Homo sapiens: one gene and its partner. The main gene of each other region encodes a partner of the protein of the gene in region 2 in a complex. Each region holds a gene or a part of one and is shown on either strand. Other genes may lie near its edges. The genes, in order: POLE2 and POLE4.

What was found.
Region 1: POLE4 (region 2) and POLE2 share a complex: the UniProt entries of both Homo sapiens proteins name them as parts of the DNA polymerase epsilon complex.

Annotation. Positions count from the first base shown.
Region 1 is NC_000014.9:49,649,817-49,666,015, forward strand, and holds part of POLE2 (DNA polymerase epsilon subunit 2), read right to left. Parts: intron 15,348-16,199; coding exon 15,291-15,347; intron 14,859-15,290; coding exon 14,810-14,858; intron 13,572-14,809; coding exon 13,499-13,571; intron 6,028-13,498; coding exon 5,855-6,027; intron 5,279-5,854; coding exon 5,189-5,278; intron 5,023-5,188; coding exon 4,968-5,022; intron 4,399-4,967; coding exon 4,339-4,398; intron 4,252-4,338; coding exon 4,174-4,251; intron 1,562-4,173; coding exon 1,453-1,561; intron 626-1,452; coding exon 449-625; coding exon of another isoform or gene 437-448; exon of another isoform or gene 331-436; intron 1-330. UniProt on the Homo sapiens protein: Accessory component of the DNA polymerase epsilon complex. Participates in DNA repair and in chromosomal DNA replication.
Region 2 is NC_000002.12:74,955,471-74,971,669, forward strand, and holds POLE4 (DNA polymerase epsilon subunit 4), read left to right. Parts: upstream 1-3,172; 5' UTR 3,173-3,209; coding exon 3,210-3,422; intron 3,423-3,870; coding exon 3,871-3,955; intron 3,956-4,634; coding exon 4,635-4,676; intron 4,677-13,938; coding exon 13,939-13,952; 3' UTR 13,953-14,658; downstream 14,659-16,199. UniProt on the Homo sapiens protein: Accessory component of the DNA polymerase epsilon complex. Participates in DNA repair and in chromosomal DNA replication.

The DNA of each region.
Region 1 (16,199 bases), on a different chromosome or scaffold from region 2:
TACATAAAATTAAGTAATAAAATATGTACCAATGAGGTTTCTATATTAATCAGGCTTAGATTTTTGGGACCTGTGCAATTTCCAAAAATCAAAATCATTCTCAAAGGACAAGTACCACCAATATGCAGGCTCTGAAGCAATTCCCAGAAAGGAATCCCAAGATAAGTTCTGAAGAGGAGAAAATTACTCTTTTGGATTTATGTTTTGGTATGCTTGTGGGTATGCTTGTTTTTTTGTTTTTTAAGTCATGTTACTTTATAGTCACTATACTGAAAGTTTAAGAACTTTCTGTGTATACCAACTTTCTGTGTATAGAAACTTAATTCAGTGTTTCACTAATAGCATATTTTTACTTCGACAATAATCTTATTAAATATATATTTTTAAATTAAAAAATGCACTCTAATCTTGATAAATAATGACTATATAAGATTAACTACATTCTTACAGGGTTTATGCAGAGGCATTCGGTATTTGTCGTAGTGAAAGGATCATATTTGTCTGCAATGACAAGTAGATCGGGCACAGGATACACTCTCAAAGCATAGTCATATGCCCAATACACTGGGCAGACATAAAGAGGTAGGGGAGTCAGATGTCCTTGGGATAAGATAGTCTTTACAAACTACAAAAGAGCACAAAACAAAGCAAACTTCAGTTCATTTGCAAAAGTGAAAATAGCTAAACAAATAATTTCAAATTAAATATTAATTACCAAAAGGAACCAGAAAATTTGAGAAACTAGGAAAGCTTTGACTCACAGAGCTTTGGGAGACACTAATTTAAAAGTGAAATAAACTATTCTGTATTTTAGGAAAAAAAATCTATGAGTTTTCATTTAATAACATATACATCATTATGCTGCCCAGGCTGGTCTCAAACTCCTGGCCTCAAGCAAGCCACCCAAAGTGCTGGGATTACAGGCATAAGCCACTGCACCTGGTCCATAAACTTTAAATATTATAAAATGAATAATAAAAATGCTCTGTAACATCTATTTCCGTACTTCTCAAATGGGGGTGTATGTAACCTGTGATTGACAACTATTGTCAGGGAACCTCGAAGCTACAAGATAAATACTGCACATTCTTGTGATATGGACATACTATATAAAATATGTAACCAATGGGATAAATAAGAACAGTTTATTAAAACAAATATACATATATTTTCAAGTATAATTTAAGAGTTTAAAAGGCAAAACACGAAGCTTGAAAGAAATTTCATGCTTATTCTCAGCTTTTCTCTGTCCTCTAAAGGACATACACTTAGGTAGAAAGCTGAGAAACACTGACTTCACTAACAAAAATTAACTTACTGACAAAAGTACGTTCAAACTATTTTGAACCATAAATAAATGTCCTAACCCAAGGACAAATTATTAAGTGGCTTAATAAAATTTTATATAATGCAACATGTAAGGCAGTTTAATAAAAAAGTTGTTTCACTTACGTGATTAGGAATAGCCAAATTGCTGCTAGGAAAACGGACGCAGTTTCTGCACATTTTATTTACTAAGTCTTCACGGAAGACAGTAATTTCCTGTGTACAGTACTGAATTCTGAAATGAAAACAGTAGTTGAATTTGACTTCTCAGAAAAAAATGATATTAATTTTAAAGGTAAAATCTCTTACAATACAACCCCATTCCCACATTCACTGTTCACCACACAAAACTTCAACCAGAGTCTGTCTATTCATCTATTCATTTAACAGCTATGTATTGAGCTCTTAATATATGCCTACCCCATTCTAGGGATTAGCGAACAGAACCAAAAGATCCCAGCCCTCATACAGTTTACATTCTAGTAGGGGGTGGGGCTGAGAAAATAAAAAGCGAACATAATCATATAGTATGTTTTAAGATAATTAAGCATAAGAGAAAAAGAAAAAGACAGGCTAAGAGGGACAGCATATGTGGTAAGAGAGAGCCTAGAAGGCGGGCATATTAATAGGATGATCAGAACAGGCCGGGCTCATAATTTAGTGTGACTTGAGCACAGGCTTGAAGCGGAAGAGGGACTTAGTCAAGCAGATACCCAGAGGAAGCGCACTGCAGGCAAAGGGAACAGATGGAGCCCAGGCCCTCAGACTGGAGCTCGCCTGGCATCCTTGAGGAACAGAAGGGAGGCTAGTGTGGCTGGAGTAAATGGGGAGGAGAGGAAATCAGAGAGGTAACGGAGCCAGATAACACAGGGCCTTGATTACCACTGCAAGGATACGGCTGTCACTAAATCACGAGGGGTCCCTTTTTCCAATGAGGGTCCCTTTTTCCAGGATCGGGAAGGTGGATGGGATATGCCTTATGCTTTACAGGATCACTTTCACACTGCGTTAAGAATAGAATACGGAGAGGAGAATGGCATGAACCCGGGAGGCGGAGCTTGCAGTGAGCCGAGATCGCGCCACTGCACTCCAGCCTGGGCAACAGAGCGAGACTCCGTCTCAAAAAAAAAAAAAAAAAAAAAAAAAAAAAAAAAAAAAAAAAAAAAAAAGAATAGAATACGGAGGGGAAGGAGTAAAAGCTGGAGACCAATTAGGAGGCTATTGTAATAATCCAGGCCGAGAAGATGGCAGAGCAGGGCTCCTCAACCTCCAGGCCATGGACTGGTACCAGTCCATGGTCTGTTAGGAACTGGACCACACAGCAGGAGGTGAGCAGCAGGCTGCAAGCAAGCAAAGCTTCATCTGTATTTACAGCCACTCCCCATCGGTTGTATTACATCCTGACCTCTGCCTCCTGTCAGATCAGCAGGGGCATTAGATTCTCACAGGAGCACGAATCCTGTTGTGAACTGTACACGTGAGTGATCTAGGCTGCACACTCGTTATAAGAATCTAATGTCTGATGATCTGTCACTGTCTCCCATCATCCCCAGATGGGACCGTCTGGTTTCAGGAAAACAAGCTTAGGGCTCCTACTGATTCTATATTATGGTAAGTTGTATAATTGTTTTATTATATATTATAATGTAATAATAATAGAAATAAAGTGCACAATAAGTGTAATACGCTTGAATCATCCCAAAATCACCCCCACCCCCCCTGGCGTCTGTCTCCCATAAGATCAGTCCCTGGTGCCAAAAAGGTTGGGGACCACTGTGGTAGAGGGTTGTGGAGGTAGAGGTATAGAGAGAGAGCAGATTCTGGATATAATTTGAAGTTAATGGGACTTCCTGAAAAAACATGTGAGAGAAACCCCAAAGTGTTTGGCCTGAACAACTGGAATAATCATTGTTCAGACCATGAAGGTGTCATGAACTAACATGGAGAAGTCTACAGAAGAGGTTAGGGACACTCGTGGGGAGGAAGATCAGGAGTTCACTTAGGTTGGGATGGTGATAAGTAGGCAACTGGATACCTGAGTCTGGAGTTTGGAAGGTAGGTTGAAGTGGAAATATAAATGTGGAAGGTGTCAATACACAGATGATACTTAAAGCCAGAGGACACTGGAGAAGGCCAGCAAAGGAGTGAATGTAGGCAGAAAAGAGGCGAACCAAGGCTGCCTCTGATGGTATTCCCACAGGAAGAACTTATGATTACAATGAGCAATACGAACAGTAAATAAGTAATCTTTGTATTCTTCCTTTGTAACCTTTCTTAAAGGATATGTAGTAATAATATCTATTTTTAAACTGCTATCCATTATTCAAGAGTCTGAATTGACTACCAATAAATTATTTAAATATAGTTAAACTATTTTCAAAGTTTTGAGAAACCTAAAACAAAAATAAATTTTCTTCTTATATTTATTCCATAACAGTCGAAATTCAGAGACACATTTTAGGAATCAAGTTAGTTTTTTTGTTTTTTGTTTTTTTTGTTTTTTTGTTTTTTGTTTTTTTGAGACAGGGTCTTGCTCTGTCGCCCAGGCTGCAGGCTGGAATGCAGTAGTGCATTCTCAGCTCACAGCAACCTCTCCACCTACCAGGCTCAAGTGATCCTCCCATCTCAGCCTCTTCATAGAACCACAGGCGCGTGCCACCAAGCCCAGCTAATTTTTGTACTTTTTGTAGAGATGGGTTTCACTGTGTTGCCAAAGCTGGTCTCGGAACTCCAAGCAACCTGCCTGCCTCGGCCTCCCAAAGTGCTGAGATTACAGACATGAGCCACCACACCTGGCTAATTTTTAAATGAAAGGAAAAATGTATAACACAAAATACTAATTCTTACCTGCAAGGATTAGTAGTAAAAACTGAAAATGGTACCCTTTGTCTGAATTCATTAGTGATGCTTTCAGCAAGTGGTGGCCTATAAAAACAATTTATGTGATATAGTTTATCTTTTTAAGTTTTACAAAATTTTCTACACTGTTGCAAAAATCTGAACAAAACTTACCTTGGTAAGATGGAACCAAATCCAGGATCCTCTGGACCAGGTACAAACACAAAACGACTACTGTAGCAAAATTCAACACAATTCATTTAAAAATATTATTGTAACACTATCCAATAGCTTAAAAGCAAGTTATTCCCTTTGTTTTCTCTTTAAAATTAAAAAACATTTAAATTTCATGCATTATAATAAATGAACTATTAAGTCTCCAGACCAACACTGTCTAGTAATGTCATGATAGAAAAGTTCTATATCTGCACTGCCCAATTGAACACTTGAATTGTGGCTAGCATAGCTGATGGACTGAATTTTATATTTAAATTTAATTAAACTTAGATTTAAAGAGACATGTGGCCAGTGACTATCATATCGGAGAGTGAAGCTCTAGACTCTTAAGAGTAATGCCACGAAGAAATTCCAAGTATGGCTGAAATTACCTCTATCCCTTTCAATACTTTTCATTATAAACCTCTAGTACAATGTGAGGATAACTTTATCTCTTAGTTCTTTTAATTTTCTCAACTTTATCTTTCTTCCTTAGTTTTGTAATAATTGCTGATATAACAAAATTCATTTTTTGTTTTTTTTTTAAGTAAAACGGTGAAAAAATATATAGTGCTAGAGATCATTACCTTTGGTGAATATCTGGGTATTCACATATTATATCTGCCAAAGTTTTTAGGGAATCTAAAATTTTAAAAAGGTATTGAATTAAATTTGCATATAATGCCATAAAATTATATTTGATTAGATACAATCCTGTATATTCTTAATTAAAATATTATGGATAATTTCTTATTACTTTAGTTTATATGACTATAGAAACACTTCTTATTAAATAGATCGTTAATACCTTTCAAAGCTTGAACTTGATTTTTTCCATATGGTGCAGATGAAAAATTACCACACAGAATAAAGCAGGTTGGAGGTGCTGGTGAATAACCTAAACAATAAAAGAGTAAATGAACAATACTTTTCTAGTCTACAAATCAAGTTAAAAACCCTTTAACCATGACTTTCTAATAATAAAAATTTATTTTAATTAAAATAACATTTTAATAACTTATTAAAATAATACTAATAACAGTAGCCATTCATTGAGCACTTACTATAGGCCAGGCCTGCATTGGCTTAATTACTCCTCAGAACATCCATAAAATCTGAGACTTAGGTTAAGTAACCTGCCCAGGGTAATAGGCTTGCACTTAAACCCAGTTTGTTTTTGTTTTTGTTTAGAGATGGGGTCTCACTATGTTGTCCAGCTGGTCTTGAACTTCAGGACTAATTCTTACTTATCATGACTATAAACACACACACACACACACACACACACACACACAGGTTTTTTTCTTAATGTAAAAATTTAAGTCTTTAAAATGAAATCTAATTTAAATTATCTCATTGCTAACTCTGTTTTTTTTTAAATAGAATACTCAAAAAGATAAATAGAATACTCAAAAAGTTTTAAAACATGAACCCTTAAAAGAGTTCAAGAAAGAAGAAAAAAAATAAGACCTACCAGCAAACATTATGCGAAGTTTTTCCAATACTTCCACCTGGTCCAACCAAACATCAGATAAAAACACAAACATAGCATCTTTATTCTCCTCTTCTAGCTGTTTTAGTTTTGCAGAAGTCTTCACAGATGTATTAGAAGGACCTCCAAAAAAATTAATATTTCCATAGTATGCCCTAGATAATTATAACATAATTATCTTCTATATACCACTAGAGATATTTTTCTAATAGTTGTATACATTTAGCTTCTTTGTATCTAATGAAGTTATTTTCCAGTGTAAAAAGGTACTCTTTGTAACACTTTAAAAGTACAAAGGTTATCTAAATATTCTAAAACAAGATAAGCAATATGGAAGCAGTAAATAAAATAATAGGCTATATCTGTGTCTTAAAACTGACTAAACGGCCGGGCACGGTGGCTCACGCCTGTAATCCCAGTACTTTGGGAGGCCGAGGCGGGCGGATCACGAGGTCAGGAGATCGAGACCATCCTGGCTAACACAGTGAAACCCCATCTCTACTAACAATACAAAAAATTAGCCGGGCGACGTGGCGGGCGCCTGTAGTCCCAGCTACTCTGGAGGATGAGACAGGAGAATGGCGTGAACCCCGGGGGGCGGAGCCTGCAGTGAGCCGAGATTGCGCCACTGCACTCCAACCTGGGCGACAGTGAGACTCTTGTCTCAAAAAAAAAAAAAAAAAACTGACTAAAGCAAACATTAAAATAATAATTTCCTATGTCACTGAAAGTAGAAGAAATGAGTACACCATTTGAACAATATCTCATAGAAACCTCAAAATATGTGCTAACCATCTGCCCAAGTAATTCTACTTCTGGAATGGCTAATCCTAAGGAATTAAAGATATATACAAAGACTAGCCTATATCCAAGAACTGTGAAAAAATTATTCAACGGTTCCTTCAAAGCTTGGTTTTATTCAATGCTCACCAAGCAAGGGTCAGTAGGAAAGTGGGTAATCTACACACTCCCAGCCTCCACCACTCTTGCCCACTCTACACTGACATCCTGCAGTTCCCAGCTTAAATGCAAATACCCCATAGGCCTCCTCTGAGGATCCCAAAAGAGGTTAGATTTTCCCATTATACACTCTCATAGGAACCTGTACTTCTCCTTTGCAGATCTTATCAAATTTGTAATCAGGCCAGGGTGGCTCACACCTATAATCCCAGCACTTTGGGAGGCCGAGGTGGGGGGATTGCTTGAGGTCAGGAGTTCAAAACCAGCCTGACCAACATGGTGAAATCCACCCCATCTCTATTAAAAATGTGAAAATTAGCCGGGCATGGCAGCAGGCACCTATAATTCCAGCTACTCGGGAGGCTGAGGCAGGAGAATCGCTTGAACCTAGGAGATGGAGGTTGTAGTAAGCCGAGATCATGCCACTGCACTCCAGCTTGGGCAACAAAGCAAGATTTTGCCTCAAAAAAAAAAAAAAAAATTGTAGTCAGCCAATTGTAATTGGGCGATTGTTTCATGTCTGTCTCCCCACCTAGTGGCAATACAGTATGTGCTCAAAACATATTTCCTGAATGTCACGAATCATGCTATAAAACAATATTTCACAGTAATAGAAAATGTTGATAGCATATTATTAGATGAAAAACACAGGTTACAAAGCAAGGTACAGTATGTATCCATTTATAATGCCAAAAAAAGGGAATAGATATAGACCTGTGCATTCATGCATAAAAAGAAACTCTCCAGATATACACATACATATCTTGTTATAGTTGATTCCTTTTTTTTTTTTTTCTTTTTTTTGACGGAGTCTCATGCTGTCTCCCAGGCTGGAGTGCAGTGCTGCAGCGGTGCGATCTCAGCTCACTGCAACCTTCATCTCCCGGGTTCAAGCAATTCTCCTGCCTCAGCCTCCTGAGTAGCTGGGATTACAGGCACATGCCACCGCATCCAGCCAATTTTGTATTTTTAGTAGAGATGGGGTTTCACCATGTTGGCTAGGCTGGTCTTGAACTCCTGACCTCAAATGATTCACCCTCCTCGCCCTTCCGAAGTGCTGGGATTACAGGCATGAGCCACCACGCCCAGCCAGTTGATTCTTGTTATTAGTGATATTATGTTCTATAAAATCTCCACAAACAATGAATTGGCAAACACTGAACCATTGCTCCTTGGGAAAATTTGTACTTATATATACATGGATTGATTATAGTCTTAAGTCCTAAAACCAATTTATCCTGGTAGATTCTATTTTTACAAATGAGAAAAGTTGGTTCAGAAATGTTAAGTGACTTATCTGAGGTTGCTCCAAAAACAGGTGCCAGAGGTGAGATTCAAATGCCCCCTCCCCACACAAAACTGGCCCCAGGGCCAGAGCTTCTTGCACTACCCTGTACTGCTCCCTGCAGTCTCTGTCCTCTGGTCATCTTTTTTTTTTTTTCTTTTGAGACAGAGTCTCGCTCTGTCCCCCAGGCTGGAGTGCAATGGCATGATCTCGGCTCACTGCAAGCTCTGCCTCCCGGGTTCATGCCATTCTCCTGCCCCAGCCTCCCAAGTAGCTGGGACTACAGGCACCTGCCACCACGCCCGGCTAATTTTTTGTAGTTTTAGTAAAGACAGGGTTTCATCGTGTTAGCCAGGATGGTCTCGATCTCCTGACCTCGTGATCCGCCCGCCTAGGCTTCCCAAAGTACTGGGATTACAGGCCTGAGCCACCGCGCCCGGCCCCTCTGGTCATCTCTTAATGAGGCTGAAACAAGAAGGCAGTATGGCCTGTTCGACTTCAGCTGGGAACATGCATGCCAGGTGACTCAAAATTTTTTGCTGTTCTGCTAAGCATAAATGACCACTAAAGCACCTTTAGTATTGACTTTAGGAGGTACAAAAACATTTTAGCACAAATCTGTAAATTAATGAGGATCTACTACATATGGACTGTCATGCACGGCATAAAAACGTTTTGGCAATGACGGACTGCATATATGAGTGGTTTCACAGAATGATAATGGAACTGAAAAGCTCTTATTGCCTACTGACATCTTAGCTGTCACAATGTCCTAGTGCCACACATTACTGTGTCTGTAGAGACACTGGTGTATACAACCTACTGAGCTGCCAGTTGTAGGAAAGTACAGCACATATAATAATGTACAATATGTAACACTTGATAACAATAATAAATGACTATGTTACTAGTTTATGTATTTACTGTACTTTTAATCATTATTTTAGAGTGTAGTCCTTCTACTTTTTTTTTTAACTGTAAAACAGCCTCAGGCAGGTCCTTCAGGAGGTCCTTCAAGAAGAACGCATTGTTACTACAGATGGCAGCTCCATGAATTATTGCCCCTGAAGACTTTCCAGTGGACAAGATGTGGAGATGAAAAACAGTGATACTGATGATTCTGTGTATAGGCCTAGGTTAATACACTTGTTTTAGTTTTTAACAAAAAAGATTTTTAGAAAATATAAAGATGGAAAAAAGTGGCTGGGCACAGTGGCTCATGCCTGTAATCACAGTACTTTGGGAGGCTGAGGTGGGAGGATTGCTTGAGGCCAGGAGTTCGAGACCAGCCTGAGCAACATAGTGAAGACCCCCACCAATCCCTACACAATTTTTTTTTTTTAATTAGCAGTCTTAGCTACTTGGGAAGCTGAGGCAGGAGGAACACTTATGTCCAGGAATTTGAGGTTGCAGTGAGCTATAATCATATCACTGCATTCCAGCCTGAAGAAGAGAGTACAGTTGTATCAGTAAATCAATTAATCAATAAAAGAAAAAAGCTCACAAAATCAGGATACAAAGAAACAATTTTTGTGCAGCTGTAGAATGTGTTTGTGTTTTAAGCTGTTTATTACAAAAAGAGTCAAAAATTTAAAATTTTTTAAAGGTTATAAAGAATGTTATAGTAACTAAAGTTAATTAATTTTATTAAAAAATTTTTATTTCAAGACAGGGTCTTCCTTTGTCACTCTGGCTGAAGTATAGTGGCACAATGATAATTCACAGCAGCCTTTAACTCCTGGGCTCAAGCAATGCTGCCACTTCAGCTTGCCAAGTAGCTAGGACTACAGGTACACACTGCCACACCCAGCTAATTTTGTTGTTGTTGTTGTTGGTAGAGATGAGGTTTTGTTATGTTGTCTAGACTGGTCTCAAACTCCTGGCCTTAAGCAACACTCCCTTCAGCCTCCCAAAGTGCTAGGATTGATTATAGGTGTGAGCCACTGTGCCCAGGCTAGGTTAATTTCTTACTGAAGAAAGAAAACTCTTTTTAAACAAATTTAGTGTAGCCTAAGTATACAGTGTTAATAGCCTACAGTAGTGTACAGTAATGTCCTAGGCCTTCAAATTCACTCACTACTCACTCACTGACTCACTCAGAGCAACTTCCAGCCCTGCAAGTTCCATTCATGATAAGTGTTCCATACAGGTGTACCAATTTTATATTTTATACCATATTTTTACTTTATCTTTTCTGTATCTAGAGAGACAAATACTTATCATTGTGTTACAGTTGCCTATAGTATTCAATACAGCAACGTGTCACACAGGTTTGTAGCACAGAAGCAACAGGCTGTACCATACAGCCTTGGTGTACAGTGGGCTATATCATCTAGGTTTGTATAAGTACACTGTGATGTTTGCACAGTGACATAATCACCTAACAACACATTTCTCAGGATGTATCCCCGTTGTTATGCAATACACAACTGTATATACATATATAAAGTAATGTTAACAGTTTTTTTCTGTTTAGTAAAATTACAGGTGATTTTCCTTTCCTTTTGTGTGCCTTCATATATTTTCTAATTTTTTTTTTTGCAATCATGAACTACATTATTAATAAGAAAAAACTTTTCTTTTTTTAAAGACTCAACTACTTTTCCAATGCAGCATACTGGCTTGAGTCGGAAACCTTGGGATCAAAGCACATCTCTAACAATAAAAAGTTTGGGCCAGGCACAGTGGCTCACACCTATAATCCCAGCCTCCCTCTGGGAGGCCGAGGCCAGTGGATCACCTGAGGTCGGGAGTTCAAGACCAGCCTGACCAACATAGCGAAACCCTGTCTCTACTAAAAATACAAAATTAGCTGAGTGTGGTGGCACATGCCTGTAATCCCAGCTACTTGGGAGGCTAAGGCAGGAGAATCACTTGAAACCGGGAAGTAGAGGTTGTGGTGAGCCAAGATGGTGCCATTGCACTCCAGCCTGGGCAACAAGAGCAAAACTCCGTCTTAAAAAAAGTTTGTGACCATGGACAAATTACCCAACCCTTCTTTTTTGGGGGGTAGGGGGACAAAGTCTCAGTGTGTCACCCAGGGTGGAGTGCAGTGGCAGGATCTCAGCTCACTGCAACCTCCGCCTCCAAAGTTCAAGCGATTCTCTCACCCAAGTAGCTGGGACTACAACCGCATGCCACCACACCTGGCTAATTTTTGTATTTTTAATAGAGACAGGGTTTCACCATGTTGCCCAGGCTAGTTCTGAACTCCAAAGCTCAAGCGATCCACCCACCTCAGCCTCCCAAATCGACACTTCTTAACCTAACTCTTCAAATGCAAAAAAAAACTAAACTGATATCTACTGCACAGGGTTACTAGAAGGAATACAAGTGATAATGTACAGAAAGCCCACAGGGCACAGTGCTTAGTACGGTGTGAGCCCTTAGATATGGTAACTGATATTGTTATTGTTCCCACCAAGTGGACCAACTGGCATTTTCAAAGGTACAGTAATAATTTTATAGTTGCTAGAGGAATGCAGTAAGTAGACATAATTGTATGATGATTTCAGTTAAGCATATACCCAAACATAAATCAGAGCATCACAGAAACACCTATTAAGCTAAATATTGAGAAATTAAACTTCAGAAAAGCCTTACTCACATCTTCCGTTTAAAAAAAAATTATTTGCATTAACTACACAATGGTAGGGAGGGTATTGAGTCAGTGTAAATCTCTTTAGGATAGGACCATGCTGTAGACCTATTTGCACTTATTTGTAAAACAGTATTTTACACATAAAACATACTCACTAAAATATTAGTTGTTGAATTGATTGACTACCACCAGATTTAGCCCCCTGAATTTTATATTTTGAAGGCATTTTAGAGAAAATTTATAATCCTAACAAGAATAAAATGATCATTTTATTTTAATGTACTTTATTACACCTCATACCAATCCTTTGGTTTACTAAGCATATACTAAGCAGTTGGATTTAGAGAAAATGGTATAATTTAAGTGGAAAATTATTTGAAACATTATAATAATGATCTCTTGGCTAAAGAGAAACAAATGGTAAACTCACAGCCAGCCAACTCAACTATACCTCTCATTCCAAAGTAGTAATTTTGAAGCTTGTACAAAACAAAAATACCATGACAATGGCAATTTTGCTCTAAATATATTCCAAAGGAAACTTACCATATTGGAAAAAAGCCACAAACTGCACCAAAAGCACTCAAATAGAGGTGAGCTTGGCTTGATTAGGGCTTGTGTTCTCCTTAGCAAGATCAGCACCTTTCCCTCAGTTACTTCAACAGCAAGAGTAGATGCTCTGCACAGGCCGCCCTGCCAGTAAACTCCCAGCCAGGAAATGTTGCCTTTGCACCTTGAATTTATACAGGCATACTAAAACTAAAATCCTTGTTGTTGTTGTTGAGACGGAGTCTCGCTCTGTTGCCAGGCTGGAGTACAGTGGTGCGATCTCGGCTCACTGCAACCTCTGCCTCCTGGTAAAACTAAAATCTTAATCTTTATGCTTCCTTTTGAAATCATCACCATTATACAGAATCTCATGGTTAGAAGGCAACTACTTTAATTCCCCCAGAGGTGGCAAACTCAAATGCTTACAGGCTCCAGGAAGATAACACTAAATAGCAAAGCAGCAGTCCACTGACACTAACTAGGGCACACATACATGCCCTGCCCAAAGTGGGCAACCACTGCAGTTTAGTTTTTGCTGTGTGAGAATTCAGGCTCTGTATTGCCAGATCCTCCTGTTAAGAGAACTCTGAAACCTAGGCCTTTATGAGAAATCTTCTAGTTTTTATACACTGGAAACTAACTCGAAATGTTTTTAAACACCTCAAAGTGGGGAGAAGAAAAGAAAGGTCTATAAACTACTTTCAACCCATGGGACACCAAGTACAATTTTTATACTATCATTCAGGTTCTGCCCAAATAATTCAAGTGACAGGGAGCTCAGCTCCTCTAAGAGAAGGCCATTTTGGAATAGCTCTAATATTATGATGCTTTCACTTATATTAAGGAGCTATAAGCTACCTCACATAACTTTCATTCATTGGAATATAAAAATGAGAATTTTATATTAACATGGAATTATATTCTTCTAAGTGTTATCCTAGTTGTCTTATCTCACTTCAACTTCTCATCAACCCCAGAGATAAAACAGACTGGAAATCTTTCCCAGTTAAAGCCGAAGTACAAAGACGGTATTGCAACTAATTGTTGGCCAATCTGCTAGTTTTCACATTACATACAAAACCCAGTCTTCTAATTCTCATTTTCCATTGCTTTTTCCATTTTGACACAAAGCCTGACACCTTTTAGTAACTGAGATATGACGTACTATCTTACATTCACTCCTGCCAGTATTACCAAATTCCCATAGAGTATAAACCAAACATTTTAATACCTAGTAGTACTAGAGGGCTCAGTGGGTGGAAATCCAAAGGCATTGACATGAAACACTTGATCTTCAAACCAACCTGAAAAAAAGTAACGTCACTTTCATTTGTCTAATCCTCTATGTTTGAAAGGACAAAATTATGTTACAACAAAGCAATAATGCCAGGCTAGTCTCATGCCCTGTGAACTAATTACAGAGGTTGCCAACCTCAATGAACCACAGTGAACAACTTTAGATCCACAGAGAGTCTCAACTTATAAAATTCATTAAATAGAAATAGATTCAGAACTTTTCACTTTTCAGTTTGGCAGTACGTGTTGATACAGATTAGGAAATGTTTCATTTTATGGCCCTATATAAAATTAAGTGTTTTTTTCAACTTTATTGAGGTATCGTTCACATACTATACAATTCACCCTTTAAAAATATATAATTCAGGGCCGGGTGCAGTGGCTCATGCCTGTAATCCCAGCACTTTGGGAGGCTGAGGCGGGCGGATCACAAGGTCAGGAGATCGAGACCATCCTGGCTAACACAGTGAAACCCCGTCTCTACTAAAAATACAAAAATAAAAAAAAATTAGCCAGGCGTAGTGGCAGGCGCCTGTAGTCCCAGCTATTAGGGAGGCTGAGGCAGGAGAATGGTGTGAACCCGGGAGGCAGAGCTTGCAGTGAGCCGAGATCGTGCCATTGCACTCCAGCCTGGGTGACAGAGTGAGACTCCATCTCAAAAGAAAAAAAAAAAAAGTATATAATTCAGGCCGGGCATGGTGGCTCACGCCTGTAATCCCAACACTTTGGGAGGCCGAGGCGGGTGGACTGCCTGAGCTCAGGAGTTTGAAACCAGCCTGGGCAACATGGTGAAACCCCGTCTCTACTAAAATACAAAAAATTAGCTAGGCATGGTGGCATGCGCCTATAATCTCAGCTACTCGGAAGGCTGAGGCATGAGAATCACTTGAACCCGGGAGGCGGAGGTTGCAGTGAGCCGAGATCGCGCCACTGCACTCCAGCCTAGGTGACAGAGTGAGACTCTGTCTCCAAAAAAAAAAGAAAAAAAAAAAAAAGGGTGTGTAATTCGGTGATTTTTAGTATATTCACAAGTTGTGTAGCCATTACTACTATCTAATTTCAGAACATTTTCATCACCCCAAAAAGATTTCTATTAGCCCATTAACAGTCTAAGAGTTATTTTGCCAAAAATATGCTCTTCTAATTAATGGTATCCCAAATTATATCATGTTAACATATTTTACCCAAAGCAGAAAGTTTTACTGGAGAATGAGAAGAAGGACAGTAACAAAGTATACTGACTTACCTTCTGCTAAGACAAAGCATGCCTCTGTGTATAAACCACTATGGAACTGGTACACAACAGTTGAGGAAAATAATTCTATTCTTGAGGCAGTAATAAAGTCAACATACATTTTGAGTCCAACAAGGCTTCTAAATAATAAATTTAAAGACTTCCCATTTGAAACTGTGAATAGACCACAGCTTAGAAAGAGCTTAAAAAATTTTAGTTTTAAATGTCCTCATGTTTAATTCTTGGTAATATTGACAGGGTGGATCATTCTTACCATGATATAAATTTCGTCAGTGATTCATCTAGATTCTCCAAATAAGAGAAAATTAAAGTTGTTCTGTCCCTGTTTAGGATTATATCTCTACATTCCTACACCAGCAACATAGAGAAGTTACATTGAGAACCCAAATAGGTAAATTTTAGAAGGATATATAATCAATTTCCCCAATTCACGTAATGCAGATTTTAAAAAATACAGACAAGTGAAGGATATAGCTTTACTAAGGTCTAGTTGGACTGTTCCAGTAGGATCTTCCAGAAAAAATTTTCCCTAAAAAAATGAAAATAAATAAATCCACATTTATGTAACAATGAAAACCGTTGACAAAAAAATTAAACTACAAGTTTGACAACAGAATACAATAGGGAGAAAGTGGATTTTAAAAATCAGCTATTATTTCTAGTCCAGGCTCTTCCATTTACTAGTCTGATAACCCCAGACTAATCACTTAACTGAGATTCTGACTCCTCACAGGTACAATGGAGAATGACTCCTACAGATAAGAAATGGCAAGAGGGACATTTGATGTCTGCCATAAGGAGGGTCTCCCCAGGTACCTTCTAAGACAGCCAACAGCATGTCCAAGGGACCAGGACATACTCTGCAGCTTGCTTGTTCAGAAACCCAGTACTCTCCGTTTATCCAGAGGTCACTACAGGCCTAATTTCAGGCTATGCAAACTGGGCTCCTGCACAAGACACTCTGTCCTGATGTCTTCTCAGGAAACCAAACACAGATGAAAAAGACACTTGGTGACTGAGAAAAGGTTTTTGTTTTTTCTGGGTTTTTTTTTTTTTTTTTTACTATTACAAAAGTTTATTTAACAAAAAGTCTAATATGAAAATGTACATGACCTAATTTTTACGTCATTGTAAAACAGGCCCTATGGAGAGAGAAAATGGGTTTCTCTGCTGAACAGCCATTATTATTTTATTTATTTATTTATTTTTGAGACAAAGTTTCGCTCTTGTTGCCCAGGCTACAGTGCAATGGCACCATCTCAGCTCACTACAACCTCCACCTCCCGAGTTCAAGGAATTCTTCTGCCTCAGCCTCCTGAGTAGCTGGGATTACAGGCATGTGCCACCACGCCTGGCTAATTTTGTATTTTTAGTAGAGACA
Region 2 (16,199 bases):
TGTGTGGAGCTTTCCATGAGTGAGAGTGTCCATAAATGTAATCTGAAAAGAACCCAGGACTGAGGCCCTAATGGCTGCTCTGGTTCAATTTTCAGCAACTCATATCCTCTTCTGCAGATTTTAATTCTGGGCCAAGACTCTTATTCTGCTATAGTGGAGTGTCTCTGTGCTAATTCAGGGTTGGGGCTCATTACATGATACCCCAAAGTATGGTACTTTGGAATGCTGAGTACTTTGAACTGAAGAAAATTGGAAAGGCCTCAGAAGCAAGGTCTTTCTGAACTTCTCCTGTCCTGTTTTCCACTGTAAGCAGTAGAAGTTATTACAGTTACTGGCAGCAAATTGCAGCAACCTCGATTCTTGTCTCCTCAGAAGATGTCGACTGAGGGGCATAAGGCAAAAGAAGAGACTGAGGCAAGTTTTAAAGCAGGAGTGAAAATTTCTTAAAAAGCTTTAGAGCAAGAACGAAAGGAAGGAAAGTACACTGAGAAGAGGCCCAAGTGGGTGACTTGAAGGACAAGTGCAAGGTTTGACCTTTTGACTTGGGTTTTTATGTGTTGGCATACTTCTGGGGTCTTGCATCCCTTCTACCCTGATTCTTCCCTTGGGGTGGGTTGTCGAAATGCACAGTAGCCTGCTAGCGCTGGGGAGGGGAGCAAGTGCAGTGTATTTATTGAAGTTGTAAGCATGCTCACCTGAGGCGTTCTTCCCTTTTTCAGTAGAATGCCCCCAGAAGGTCATATATCAGTTAAATTCCACCATTTTGCCTCTTAGTGTGCATGCGTGAGCCCGCTCGCCCAACTCCTGAGATCTCATCAGGAAGCTCCTGATCATCAGTTTCAGGGTTTTTCTATCTATAGGGAAACTGCCTTTCCCTGGCGCTGGCTATGAGCAATTATTATTTTAGAGAGGCGGTGTGACCACTGTCTGACCATCACCTGATGATCTTCTGACATTCCTGGTGGAGCGTGGGGGCCCTATCCTGCCCTGTTCGTGTCTGACTAGCTACCCACTGTAACATCACCACTCTTCGCAGTGAGTCATGGAAACCAGAATTCCTCTTTCCCAACGCAGGTCATAGAAACTAGAATTCTCCTTCCTCCAAGCAAGTCGTAAAACCTAGAAAGGTTATTTTCTGCCTTCTCCCTTGAAGACCCTCATTCCAGAAGGGTCCTGCCCTAATACCAGAAGGAATGCTACACAGGGAGGCCAAGAAGAATATGAACAGACAGGCCTTGCTGGGTTTCCCCATTCAGTCTATTACCATTAGACTATTATCATTCCCTTTTTGTCCAATCCCATTTCTTTTTCTTTTTAAGACACAGGGTCTCTCTCTGTCGCCCAGGCTGGAGTGCAGTGGTGCAATCATTGCTCACTGTAACCTTGAACTCCTGGGCTCAAGCAACTCTCCCACCTCAGCCTCCCAAGTAGCTAGGACTATAGGATCACAATACCCAGCTAATTTGTGTGTGTGTGTGTGTGTGTGTGTGTGTGTGTGTGTGTGTGTGTAGAAATGGGGTCTCCATCTGTTGCCCAGGCTGGTCTCAAACTCCTGGGCTCAGGCGGTCCTCCTGCCTTGGCTTCCCAAAGTGTTGGGATTACAAGTGTGACCCACCGTACCAGGCCTCTAATCACATTTCTACACAGCGATCCCTTCTTCATATAACCTAAGCATAAAAATAGTTTCCTCTAGGTCTCATGGTCTGCATTTTTGGACTCTCATGTCATGTAAAACTTTGATTAGACTTGTTAGGCTTTTTGTGTGTGTTATAGGAGTGTCAGCTGTGACCCTTAAAATGGGTAAAGAAAGGTTTCACACCTTTCCACTCCTACACCAGTCAGAGTTTACTACATAATTTTGGAACTGAGTGATTTCAGATGTGTTTAATTCAGCTTCATCTTGGCTTCACCACATTCTGCCCTGTGTATGCGACTCAGTAACCACTCTGCACCTCAATTTTTTCAAATAAGGTTTGAAAAAGAAGGTTATAATATTTACCTCAATAGGGTATTGTGAAAATTACAGAAGTTATGATTTACATAAATCTAAAACACTTTGAATCATGCACATAGTAAATGTTTAAAGGTGTTCACTATTATTATGATTGACTTAGATTAAACCTATTTTAAATATTAACTGTTCCTCTACGCTATCAGACCTCCAAGTGTGGTGTGGGGATTCATGGGGGTGGGAATTTTCTGGAGACCCTTTTCAGGAGTCCATGAGGCCAAAATTATTTTCTTAATACTACTATGAGGTTGCCTTTTTCATTCACATTCTCTCAAGATGTAGTAGTTTTTTAAGAGCTACCTGAGAAGTGCTAACGTTAGCAACAGAAGCAGCTAGAGAATCCAGTTCTCACATGAAATCAGACATTAGAGACTTTTCTTACTAGATTTAAAAAAAATTACTTGTCATAAAAATGTTGTTTGTTAGCTGGTAACGCATTAGTAATTTTAAATCAATATTTTAAAACTTTAATTCTAATATAGTAAGTATTGATATAACTGACAGAAACAAAAGCTCCCTGGGCTCTTTAACAATCTTTAAGACCGTAAAGGGATCTTGAGGTCAAATTTGAGAACCAAAGCTGTGATGCAACCTCTTTTTGAACAAACGTGGATGCCTCACCACCACAATTTCATCTTTTCTAGCCTCCATGACTTTTTCTTGTTTCCTCTGGCTGGGCTGAATTTCTTCATTTCTGCCTGCCAAAAGCCCTACCCCTCCTTCAAGAGCATCTATAACTGGTTATCCTTGAATTTGGTCCAGATTTCGCTGCCTCCTTGGCACCCTCTTCCACGATGCTGGGCCCTCCAGGGCCGGGCCTCCCTCGGACACGTGCCCTCGTTAGCCTTGGAATATGCACACTCTGTTTTGACGGAGACTCTCTTGCGAGCCTGGTCTAGATTTCTCCCCTCACCAGCCAGGCACAGGCACCAATGGGAGGTGCCTGGGCTCCACAGGCCCGTCGGGGCCAGAGGGTCGCCGGTAGCGTCAACCAAGTGCACGACAGCCCACGGGTGGCTAGGCGCGTGGGAAGAGCCGGAGCCCGACCCCCGCCCACCCGGTTTCCTGGCAGCGCACTGCCGCGTAGGGGCGGAGCCGCGCGCCTACACAGGGTGTGGCCTCCAGCCCGCGCGGGAAAGGGCCTGCGCCGCATGCGCGCGCACAGTCGGCGGCCGCGCGCAGCACGCTCAAGGCCGGGATGGCGGCGGCGGCGGCGGCAGGAAGCGGGACGCCCCGAGAGGAGGAGGGACCTGCTGGGGAGGCAGCGGCCTCGCAGCCCCAGGCCCCAACGAGTGTGCCTGGGGCTCGTCTCTCGAGGTTGCCTCTGGCGCGAGTGAAGGCCTTGGTGAAGGCAGATCCCGACGTGACGCTAGCGGGACAGGAAGCCATCTTCATTCTGGCACGAGCCGCGGTGCGCCTGCAGCGCGAGGGCATGCGGGAGTGGGGGAGGTGGAGTGTGGGGCGGGGCCTCGGGGCCTCCCGCGGGCGGGGCTTAGGGCGGCGTGGCCCGGGTTTTGAGATGTGGGCGTGGACCCGGAAGGCGGAGGAAAGGGGCCGGGGACCTGTGCGAGTTTTGTTAACACTCCTCCCTCTTGTTGAGGACCTGGATAGTGAGTGACTTTAATTTGTATCTCCAGGGCCTCGTACAGAACTTGTAGGAGTCTTTAGTGAATGAGGGAGAATACTGGGAAGAGGGTAGCGGAATGGATCTTCATGAAGTCCAGGACAATCTTAGCTTCCAGAACATTTTCTTGCCCCGAGCCTTTCTTCTCCCTTTCTGCCCCCACCCACAAACCGGAGCCCTCACCTCCTCAGTGTGTTAGAACCCATTACTAAAACTTTGCTTTTTTACTTCACAGGAACTGTTTGTGGAGACCATTGCAAAAGATGCCTACTGTTGCGCTCAGCAGGGAAAAAGGAAAACCCTTCAGAGGAGAGACTTGGGTAGAGTGGCACTGCAGTGTCTGGGGACAGACAAGGGAGGGCTGGGCTGGTTTCCCCTTGTGCAGGTTGAGAAGACGTCACTCTGATCTGAGAGGTGCCACAGCGTCTCTCCCCAGGATGGTTTCTGTTGGCCACAGTGCCAGGAAGCCCTACCTGTAGAGGCTGTCTGCTTGGGGTGGCGGGGCAGTGTGTGAAGGTGTCTGGGGTTGCCGTAGCGGACTGGATCCCTTCATACCTTCTGCCAAATTGCACCAGAAAAAGATATTTCTTTTTCACCTAGCAACTGGGGATTTGATTTCTGACTCTTGTCTGGCTGGGAACCCTCACCTGGGTAAGATTTCGTATACCGTATTCTCATGCGCCCTGCGTCTATTGCCACGTTCTTCTCTGACAACTTTAAGAGCAAAGCGAATAAATAATTTAGGGGTAATTTAGGAGGCCCCCAACCCCCGCGTTGAATGGTATTTGCCTATGCTTTTCTTAACTCTTCTAGGGAGACAGCTAATATATATAAGAGTTGCTGGTAGAGTAGATATGGATCTCAAGGCAGCAAGGGACGCATCTTATAAATGCCCTCATTTGCCCAAAGCCTCATGCCCTTCACTGCAGATTGTGCTGTTTTCTGACTGAGGTCAGCATGGCTGAAGTTAGTCAGGTGTCTCTTTTCCTTGTGTTTCAGATAATGCAATAGAAGCTGTGGATGAATTTGCTTTTCTGGAAGGTGAGTTCCCTCTCAGTGGGCAATCATTTCCGCCTGTCTTTTGCATGTTGATGTGAAATTCAAAATCTCATAAAACGGATGCCTGCTTCTTGTTTGTGTAGGGATAATTCTCCGCACTTGCTATTAGGATAGAAAAAAGTAACTTGCTAAACCTAGTGAGGTTCAGTTTTCTCCCTTGGGGAATTAAAATTTCTACCTGAAAATTGCTAACCATAAAGAAATAGGAGGGAATATAAAGATCCCAGTGGAGTTAGATGAATTCGAAAGTTCGATTCCTACTTTGATCGCCATCCCTAAATGTCAGGCTTGCCCCCCCTCATCATGTTACAGATCAGAAACAATTGTTAACATTTAAAGGGTCACCGCTTGTTCTTTTTTCTTCAACAATCTGTGTGAAGTGATTATTTTGCTGCAATAAGACTTGTACTTGTCTGTATTTTTAGGAGTCATGGATTAACTTGTGTACTAACTAAATTTTGTCATTAAAAAAGAAAATATTTGAAATACCTAATTTTAGCTACCTAGCCTCAGAGCGATTTCTGCTACTTAATTCTTCAGTCTGATCAGCTTACTCTTCACTACACGTATGTAGTCATGTGCTGCGTAATAACTTTTTGGTCAGCCATGGACTGCTCACATGAGGGTGGTCCCATCAGATTATAATGGAGCTGAAAAATTCCTTTTGCCCAGTGAGGTAGTGGTCATAACATCCTAATGAAATACATTACCTTTTCTATGTTTAGATTTGTTTAAATACACTTATCCTCATGTTACAGTTGCCTACAGTATTCAGTACAGTAACATGCTGTTCAGGTTTGTAACCTGACAACAATAGGTATACCCTGTAGACTAAGTGTGTAGTAGGCTATACCATCTAGCTTTGTGTAAGTACCCTCTATGGTGTTCACACAGTGGTGAAATCGCCTGAAGATGTGATGCATTTCTCAGGATGTATCCTTGTTGTTGAGCGACACATGTATTTTGATTGAATAGCTTAGCAAAAGCCATGTATCCTTATTCTCCCAGGGTGTTCTCATTACCTCCTTCAAGCCTTATTACCTTTAGAAATATCTTGATTTATTCCACTCTTTTTTACTCCTTTGTTCTGCATCTCCCTGTCAACCTAGGCCCCTGGTCCTTTTGATAGATATTTTTTAAATGTCTTATTAGATAGATAGACTACCATGGCCAACTCTATGTCTAGACTATTGAGCATTCTTTTAATTTGCAGATTTTTCTTCAGCCTCTCTTTCCACCTACTCATTTTTCTTAAAATTAACTTTTGTTAGTCCTACCTAAGGCAGGCACTCCTTGTGACAGACTTTCTGTAAGTTCTGCAGTCAAAAATGTTTGGAGCCTACTTTACCTCTTCATTTTTAATTACCAGCTTTTCAAAGACATGAGTGATATGATCAGATTTGTATTTTAAGTGCACAACATTGCTGCCCTGGGGAAAATAAACTGGAGGGTACTAGGAATAGAAGTGGGGTGGTCTTATGTAGTTTTCCACTCTAGCCTCTATCACAGCATAGTGCTTAGCTTGGATTTTTAATAAATGGCCATTTATTGAATGATTGGTGTGTTTATTTTCATCCTCTGCCTTCATCCTCATTTATCTCTGTAATTGAATCCCTTTGCTCTGTCCTACATTGGTAGATCTGAATGTTAGCCATCATAGCCCCTGTGGATTCAGTCTGCATTATATTATTTTTTACTGGGTAAAATAAATGTTCTTATGTCCTTAGGTGTGTATGGTCTAAGTAAATACATTTTTTTCGTTTTTATAATACATATCCATACTTGAAAATCAAATCGTTACCTAATGGCTTATAATGAAGTACAGCTGCCGTCCACCCACTGTTTTGTTTGTGTTTTGAGCTTTTCTGGTGGTTACGTTTATTTCTAACTAATATGCTTACCCATTGGTTTGTCAGCTGTAGACGGTATGTATTGACTTCCTGCTGTGATAAATGAAGATTTGGCTAACCTGTAGAACCCCATAAATCCCCTGCTGTCTTTCTGATTTTTGGTAGTTGTATCACTAGTTTTAGTTTCTTTACCTTTACAGTTTATATAACATACTAGGATGTCTTTGGTTGTTGTGTCCAATTTTTAATGTATTCCTTGACTCCCCAGTTTGTAAAGTATGACTATTAGTGCATGTATCCCTTTTCCCTTTCTAGTTCACATCTAGCTATCAATTTGTGTTATCTAGTAATTTGACATTGTCAAAGCTAATAACATTTGTATCTTATCACAATTAAATCTTCCATGCTTTATCTCTGGTTGATTGTAGAAGTTGAAAACTAGGACTGTAAACAGTCTTTCTCTACCTTCTCTCTGTCCCTTAATTCCTCATTCAGGTCCCCTCCCTGCAAACAACTGTTACTAGTTTTCTTCTGTAATCTGGATATTTTATGCAAATATGTTTGTATGTGTATATGTATATTCTTTTTCTAAGTCATATGAAATACAACGTATGTAAAGTGTGTGCTGTAAATGTAAAGTCAATAAATGATAAAATGAACACTCTCGTAACCACCATCTTGGCCAAGAGATAGGGTATTGTCAGCCCCCAGAGTCCCACGTATATTCATTCTTCATCATACCTATTCTCATCCCCTTTCCCGACATTACTGTTTCCTAACTTTTTTGGTAATTACTTCCTTTTCTTTATAGCTTACTATATAAGCATGCATCCCTGAACACTAAGGTTTAGTTTTGTTTTGTTGAACTCTCTGCAAATGGAACCAAACCGTATGCATTCGTTGGCCAACATCTGTCACACAACTGTTTTAAGTTAACACATTTATGAGATTCATCTGTGTGATTGCACATAACTCATTTGTTCGTGTTCCTTGCTATATGACAGTACCACAATTGAACTATTTTAATGTTGATATTTGGGAAACCTTATTTCTCCTATTATAAACAATTTGCTGTGAACAATCTTGTACATATTTCTCTAGGGTGGATGTATATGTGTGTATAAAATATATAATACTGCTGGGACCTAGGCTATATAGAGTATTCGTATCTCCATCTTTGGCAGGTACTGCTGAACTTCCTGTATTCCAATTCACGTTCCTACCAGCAGTGCATGATAATTCCCATTGCTTCTCATTCTTACCCACACTTGGTATTACCAGAGTTTTTTATTTTTGACAAGCTGTTATTGAATGTAAGTGATAGTTGCATGTGGTGTTAATTCGTATTGCCCTGATTGTGGGTGACATTGGGCGTCTTTTCATATACATGCCCATTTTTTTTTGAGGGGTGTCTTCTATTTTTCTGTTAGCTATTTTTGTCCTTTTTCTTATTGACTTATAAAAATGCTTGCTGTATTTTATTTCATTTTTATTTATTTATTTTTTTGACGTGGAGTCTTGCTTTGTCATCCAGGCTGGAATGCAGTGGCATGATCTCTGCTCAATGCAGCCCCCCCTCCCACGTTCAAGAGATTCTCACGTAACTGGGACTACAGGCGTGTACCACCACGCCTGGCTAATTTTGGCATTTTTTTGGTAGAGATGGGGTTTCACTGTGTTGGCCAGGCTGGTCTCGAACTCCTGACCTCAAGTGATCTGCCTGCCTCCGCCTTCCAAGGTGCTGGGATTACAGGTGTGAGCCACTGCGCCCAGCCGTGCTTGTTATATTTTAGATATGAATCTTTTTTAGTATATGAGACGTATCTTTTCCTGCCTTTTCACTCCTTAAAAGGTTGTCTTTTGATACGCATTAAAATATAAAGGTAATCAAATGTATCAATTTTTTTCCTTATAACTAATGCTATTTGTGTTCATTTTAGAAAATATTCCCTACTGTATTGTCATGAAGACATTCTGTATATGCTAAAATCTTTATAGTTTTGTCTTTCATAACAGTGGAGTTGAATTTTTGTGTATTGGGTTGGGGGTCCAGTCTCATTTGTGTCTTCATATTTAGATATCCGCTTGTCCATATCGTCATCTCACTGCTTTGCAGTGCTACCTTTCTTATCAATCAAGGCTGTTTCTGGCCTTTCTGTTCTCTTCCATTGATCTATTTGTATCTCTTTTCCATTGATGGGTATTCTCACATCAGTACTATACTGTCTCAGTTATGGTAGCTTTATCTGAGAGAGCAGATCTTCCCACCTTGTTTTTTTCTAAGTATCTTTGCTATTTTTGAATCTTTGCATTTTCATGTACATTTTAGAATCTGTCAAATTCCACAAAAAGAGATATTAATTGGGATTGTATTGAATTTATAAATTACTGTGGGGAAGAAACGATATCTTTACAATAGTGAACCTTTCATTTTATAAATATGGTCTACTTTAACATTTATTAATATTTAGTTTTTAATAAATTATTTTACCTGAAGAAATCTTGATGTATTTTGTTAAATGTTGTTCTGTAAGTACTTAATATTTTTGATGATATTGTTAATGGTATCTTTCTAAAGAAAATTTTATTTTCTAAATATTGCTGTTTTTAGAAATATAATTGATTTTATGTTAATTTTGCAACTAGCATCTTTCTTAGCTGTTATTCTTAGTTTTTTTACTTAAAAATTTTGTTTTGATGTAGTTCTTAATAATTTGAATGACATATCTGTTGATTTTTGAATTTCTTTAATTACATAGTAGTATATCATCTGCCAATAATAATAATTTTGTGAAGTTCTTTCCAATCCTTATCTTTATATATTTTTTTCTTGCCCTACTGAACTGGCTAGAATCTCTAGTACAGTGTTGCATGGAAGTGGTAAGAGCAGGCATTTTTGACTTCCAAGGGAAAGCTTTCAGTATTTACCTAGTAATTATGCTTACTGTAGATTTTATGTAGATTTTTTAACAGATTATGAATGTTGCATCCCTGTTTATAAAAGAGATTAGTCTTTTTTTTTCATACTGTGTGTGAGCTTCATACAATTCATTGGCAATTATACACTTTTTATCTATTTTTTTTTTTTTTTTGGTGGGGGATGGAGTCTCACTCTGTTGCCCAGGGTGGAGTACAGTGGTACGATCTCAGCTCATTGCAACCTCTGCCTCCTGGGTTCAAGTGATTCTCCTGCCTCAGCCTCTCGAGTAGCTGGGATTACAGGCTCGCACCACCACACCCCAATAATTTTTGTATTTTAGTAGAGATGGGGTTTTGCCATGTTGGTCAGGCTGGTCTTGAACTCCTGACCTCAGGTGTTCAAGGTCCACCCGCCTCAGCCTCCCAAAGTGTTGGGATTACAGGCGTGAGCCACCGCGCCTGGCCCACTTTTTATCTTATCTATTCTCTGGAAAACTTATTGAAAGATTGGAATTATTTTGTTTTTGAATATTTGATGGAATTCAGTGATGCTGTTAGAGGGGTTGCAATGCCAAATTTGGTTATTGTATAATTTAGATTTTCTGTGTTCTTACTGAATTTCTTCTGTCTGCTTATTTTACCTGTTTCAAAGAGTTATGTGTTAAAACTCTACTGCTATGATTATGGACTATTTCTACTTATATTTCTGGGTCTATTCTTTCATTATATATTATGAAACCATGTGATTAGATATATACAAATTTAATGTTGTTATATATTGTTGGTGATTGAGCCTTTTATATTTGTAAATTGGCTATTGTTATTTCTAACTGCTTTGAGCCCTAAAGTCTATTTTGTTTAATATTATTAAAGCTTATCAGCTTTCTTTAGTTAGTATTTATTTGCACGGTACGGATTTTTGTAAATCTTTTAATTTTTATCTTTCCATATATTTGTGAACAGAATTTAACTGGATTATTTTCCTAAATTCAGACAGTCTGTGTCTATAACTGGAGCACGTCATTTATTTATGTTTAATGTAATTGGTCATATCTATGAGTTTGAATTCTATTGTCTTATTTTGTCCTGCTTTTTATTTGCTTGTTTTATGTTTTGTTTTTTTTTTCTCTCAATTTTTGGCCTTCTTTTGGATTATTATTTGATTTTTTTCCCTCTATCAGCTTGGAAGTTATATGCTCTATTTCTATTCTTTTAGTGATTATCAGTTACTATGTAAGTCCTTAATTTATCAAAGCCTATTTAGTACCTTTCCCCTCATTCTCAACAAATTGAGATCTCAGGATCCATTAACTCAATTTTCAAATTCCTCGTCTCCTAATTTATGTGCTGTTATTGTCATGTATTTTTGTTTTGTCTTTGTCAATCTACATAAGGCATTTTTATTCCTGAATTATGCAGTCAATGATATATGGATTTAGTCACATACTACCTTTGCTTTTCTTTCCTTTCTGGATTATTATTATTTTTGAGACAGTTTCATTTCGTCACCCAGGCTGGAGTGCAGTGGTGCGATCTCAGCTCACTGCAACCTCTGCCTCCTGGGTTCAAGTGATTCTCATGTCTCAGCCTCCCAAGTAGCTGGAATTACAGGCATGCACCACCAAGCCTGGCTAGTTTTTTTTGTATTTTTAGTAGAGATGGGGTTTCACCATGTTGACCAGGCTAGTCTCAAACTCCTGACCTCAAGTCATCTGCCTGCCTTGGCCTCCCAAGTGCTGGGATTACAGGCGTGAGCTGCTGTGCTTGGCCTCCTTTCTGTATTTCCGATCCTCCATTTGTGATCATTTTCTTCTTCCTGAAATAAATCATTTAGAACTTCATTTAGTATGGTCTGGTAACTGACTCTCTCATTTTTTTCTTATGAAAATGCCTTGAATTTCATTGTTGGAGGATAATTTGTTGAATATAAATTCTAGGTGGAAAATTATTTTCTTTTAGCACATTGAAGCTATCATTTTACTGCTTTTTTTTTTGGCTTCTATGTTTTCTATAGAGAAATTACCTGTTTGTAATTCTTTTGAAGCTAGTTTATCCTTTTTGTTTTTTGTCTGCTTTTAAGATTTTCACTTTGATTTTCTGTGGTTTCACTCTGATGTACAGAGGTGTGGATTTCTTTTTATGTAGTTTGTTTGAGCTTCTTGAATCTATAGATTAATGTCTTTCATCTGTCCTGGAAAATTCTCAGCGAGTGTCTCTTCAGCTATTGGCTCTGCCTTGTTCTTTCCTGTGTCTCTCTCTGGGATTCCCATTAAATATATGTAAAAACTCAATCATAATTTTGCCTCTCTAGTATGCATTCTGTGTAATTTTTTCTGATCTTCCAGTTTATTCTCTCCATTTGTCTCATTTCCTTTAAACTATTTTTTTTGTTTTTTTTTTTTAGTTTCAGTTTTTGTATTTTTCAGTACTGTGAGTTCTGTTTGGTTCCTTTCCAAATCTGTTGTCTTTTTTTTTAGCTTAATAAAGTATCAAGCAATTTTTGTGAGTACTTTTTGTTGTTCTTATTTTCTGCAGGTATTTTGAAGTTTGTCTTTTAGTTCTGTAAACATAGTAAACACAGTTGTTTTATAGTGAATGTTCCATCCAATATATGACCTAATATTCAAAGCCTTTTGAGTTTTTTGTTTGCTAGTCTGTGCCGAATCTAACATCCATAGTCTCTTGAGACTGTCTTTTTGTCTGTTGTTTCTTTTGGTACTGTCACATGGCCTTTTATCCCCCTATATGCCTATCTTTGGATAATGGTTATTTTCTTTAAAAAGTATTTGTTAGATAAGTTGAGGCCATATGGTGATACTTTCTCCAAAGAAAATTTCCATTTGCTCCTGAAGCCACCTACAGCCATTATCAGTGCAGGACTTCTGAATCCAGATCTAAGACTTGAAGGTTTCTGGACTATCATACTGATATGAACTCAGGCTGCAGGCCTGTGAAGGGGCACTGATTAAATTCCAGTTCGTCCTTACTCTGAGGGGGCAGCCTTTTGGGCTCTAGCTTAAGAAAGATGGGTGTCAGACTTCCTTACTTGGGTAGACTCAGGGATTTGACTCTTGGTTCCTTCAGCCTACACAAATAACCGCCCAGTTTCTCAGCTTTTTCAGATTGGCAGATGTCATGAGAGCAGAAGTAACATTAGAGGCTGGGTTTGTTTTGTGTTCTTACTGTCTCTAGATTTCACATTTGCTTTTTCTTGATGTCTCTTCAATTCCTGAAGATTTCCTTTTCTTATATATTTTATTTAGCTTTCTCAGTTGATCTCAACAGGAACTTGCCATTATGAAAAGCACCTCTATTTTTTTTTAAATTAGAAGTGTTTTTGCTTTATTTTTCTTATGTTTTTATTTTCCCTATATTATCTAGGTCATTAAAAAAAGTTTTGGTATCCTTTCAACTGTGTAGCTTTCTTCAGATACCTGGTGATTTTCATTCTATTTAAGAATAAGGGAATAAGGCTGTTTGGTAACTGTGTGTGTGTGTATGGGATGAGGGGGTGGTTGTTGCCTGGCAGCTTTGCTTTAGGGTGAACAGGGGTGGGACCAGATGTTGTCCTGGGTGACCCCGAGGGTATGAATGCAGAATGCTTTGCTGTGGGAAGCTGGCAGTTTTAGAGGCTGTTCTAGTTTTCTCCATATAGTTCATTTGGTTCTTTAGAAGAGAGCCCTGTGATCTTTGTTTTTTTTTTTTTTCCAAGTTAGGTTTAAATGCCTGTCTTCTGGTTGTCCTGCCTGTGGGGAGGGTTGTGGGGAGATAGGGGCAACTGTTTGTCATACAGACCCTCTGGTCATTAACCCATTTTCATCTCACATCACCATTCCTGGTGACTTGAGCCTGGAGCTTCCTCATGGTTCTTTTAGGCATATGGGCCTCCTTTTCTGCTGCAGCCCCCTCTGTTCATTCTAGGCTCCTTTTTCCTCTGCTCTATTTATAAGCATACTTTGATCAGGTTTCTGTTACTCAGTTTTTTGTTGAAATCCATTAACTGCCAGTGGGCCCCTATTTGTTGTAGATTTATACTTTTTAAACTTTTTTACCTTTTGAATGGAATCTTGGATGGGAGGGCATACGTACTTGTGGGCCCAGTCCCCCATCTGGAACTGAAACTTTCTAAAAAGATTATAAACTCTTTAATTAGAGAGTTTACCTCATTTATTTTATATTCTTTTCTTATATGGTCTTCATCAATGTTCATTAACTAACACAACGACTTCTTAGCCCTTTTCCCACTTCTAATTCTAGCTCTTCCGACTAGTATGCTTAATTCCTAACTGCCCACCATCTGTAATGACATGTTTTCCCTGGGGATATTTTGGATGGATCATCCTCAAAATTAGTATTTTGGTCTTAGAGAACTGCTGCCAATACCGGAGCCTCTTCTGCATTAAGTTTGCCCAGCTTGTTACACTAATCCAGCTTCTGAGGTCCCCTGATATACTCATTGCTCTTTGTATGTTTAGGTACTTTAGATTGATTGCCGAGCGGGGCAGTTTTGTGAGCCTTCATCTGAAGCCTTCAGTTCACCCCTCTGCACAGGCCTCAGCTTTGAAGAACGGAGTCTTTGCACTTACACACACTCTTCCTGTTCTGCCTTCACCTATGCCGGGATAAGCAGAGATCTCATCAATTAGCTCTTCTCTGCAAGGTCTTCCACTATTTCTGTCTGTCTTCCATATCAAGCCTGGATGCAGCTGCTGCTGCTTAGAGCAGAGATGAAGAAAGTGTTCTGCATAAGTGGCTTCCTGAATGATGAGGACCAGAATAAAGGTTTTTGATCAACCTCAGTCCAGTGTGTTTTATAATCTCGCCTTTGTTCCTACCCTGTGACTGGAGAGTCACCATACCTGGTCACAGACCTTCCTGATCTTCCCTGCCAGCCATTCTAACATACAGTCCTTTCATTAATTTTGTTCTTTTATTTTTCCAGCACATCACCAGAAAGTGGTTCCAGAATTTATGGAACACCACTTGCCCTCAGGAGTTCAAATAAATATGGTCCTAGATTGAAAGCCAGTTAAATTTTTTTTAAGTTTTATTTATTGACATATCCACATACTCTATATTTCACCAATTTAAAGTGTACAATTCAGTGGTATTTAGTATATTCACAAATATGTACACCAGTCATCACAGTCGATTTTAGAACATTTTATTTATTTATTTATTATTATTATACTTTAAGTTTTAGGGTACATGTGCACAATGTGCAGGTTAGTTACATATGTATACATGTGCCATGCTGGTGCGCTGCACCCACTAACTCGTCATCTAGCATTAGGTATATCTCCCAGTGCTGTCCCTCCCCCCTCCCCCCACCCGACAACAGTCCCCAGAGTGTGATGTTCCCCTTCCTGTGTCCATGTGTTGTCATTGTTCAGTTCCCACCTATGAGTGAGAATATGTGGTGTTTGGTTTTTTGTTCTTGCGATAGTTTACTGAGAATGATGATTTCCAATTTCATCCATGTCCCTACAAAGGACATGAACTCATCATTTTTTATGGCTGCATAGTATTCCATGGTGCATATGTGCCACATTTTCTTAATCCAGTCTATCGTTGTTGGACATTTGGGTTGGTTCCAAGTCTTTGCTATTGTGAATAATGCCGCAATAAACATACGTGTGCATGTGTCTTTATAGCAGCATGATTTATAGTCCTTTGGGTATATGCGCAGTAATGGGATGGCTGGGTCAAATGGTATTTCCAGTTCTAGATCCCTGAGGAATCGCCACACTGACTTCCACAATGGTTGAACTAGTTTACAGTCCCACCAACAGTGTAAAAGTGTTCCTATTTCTCCACATCCTCTCCAGCACCTGTTGTTTCCTGACTTTTGAATGATTGCCATTCTAACTGGTGTGAAATGGTATCTCATTGTGGTTTTGATTTGCATTTCTCTGATGGCCAGTGATGGTGAGCATTTTTTCATGTGTTTTTTGGCTGCATAAATGTCTTCTTTTGAGAAGTGTCTGTTCATGTCCTTCGCCCACTTTTTGATGGGGTTGTTTGTTTTTTTCTTGTAAATTTGTTTGAGTTCATTGTAGATTCTGGATATTAGCCCTTTGTCAGATGAGTAGGTTGCAAAAATTTTCTCCCATTTTGTAGGTTGCCTGTTCACTCTGATGGTACTTTCTTTTGCTGTGCAGAACTCTTTAGTTTAATTAGATCCTATTTGTCAATTTTGGCTTTTGTTGCCATTGCTTTTGGTGTTTTAGACATGAAGTCCTTGCCCATGCAGAATGGTAATGCCTAGGTTTTCTTCTAGGGTTTTTGTGGTTTTAGGTCTAATGTTTAAGTCTTTAATCCATCTTGAATTGATTTTTGTATAAGGTGTAAGGAAGGGATCCAGTTTCAGCTTTCTACATATGGCTAGCCAGTTTTCCCAGCACCATTTATTAAATAGGGAATCCTTTCCCCATTGCTTGTTTTTCTCAGGTTTGTCAAAGATCAGATAGTTGTAGATATGCGGCGTTATTTCTGAGGGCTCTGTTCTGTTCCATTGATCTATATCTCTGTTTTGGTACCAGTACCATGCTGTTTTGGTTACTGTAGCCTTATAGTATAGTTTGAAGTCAGGTAGCGTGATGCCTCCAGCTTTGTTCTTTTGGCTTAGGATTGACTTGGCGATGCGGGCTCTTTTTTGGTTCCATATGAACTTTAAAGTAGTTTTTTCCAATTCTGTAAAGAAAGTCATTGGTAGCTTGATGGGGATGGCATTGAA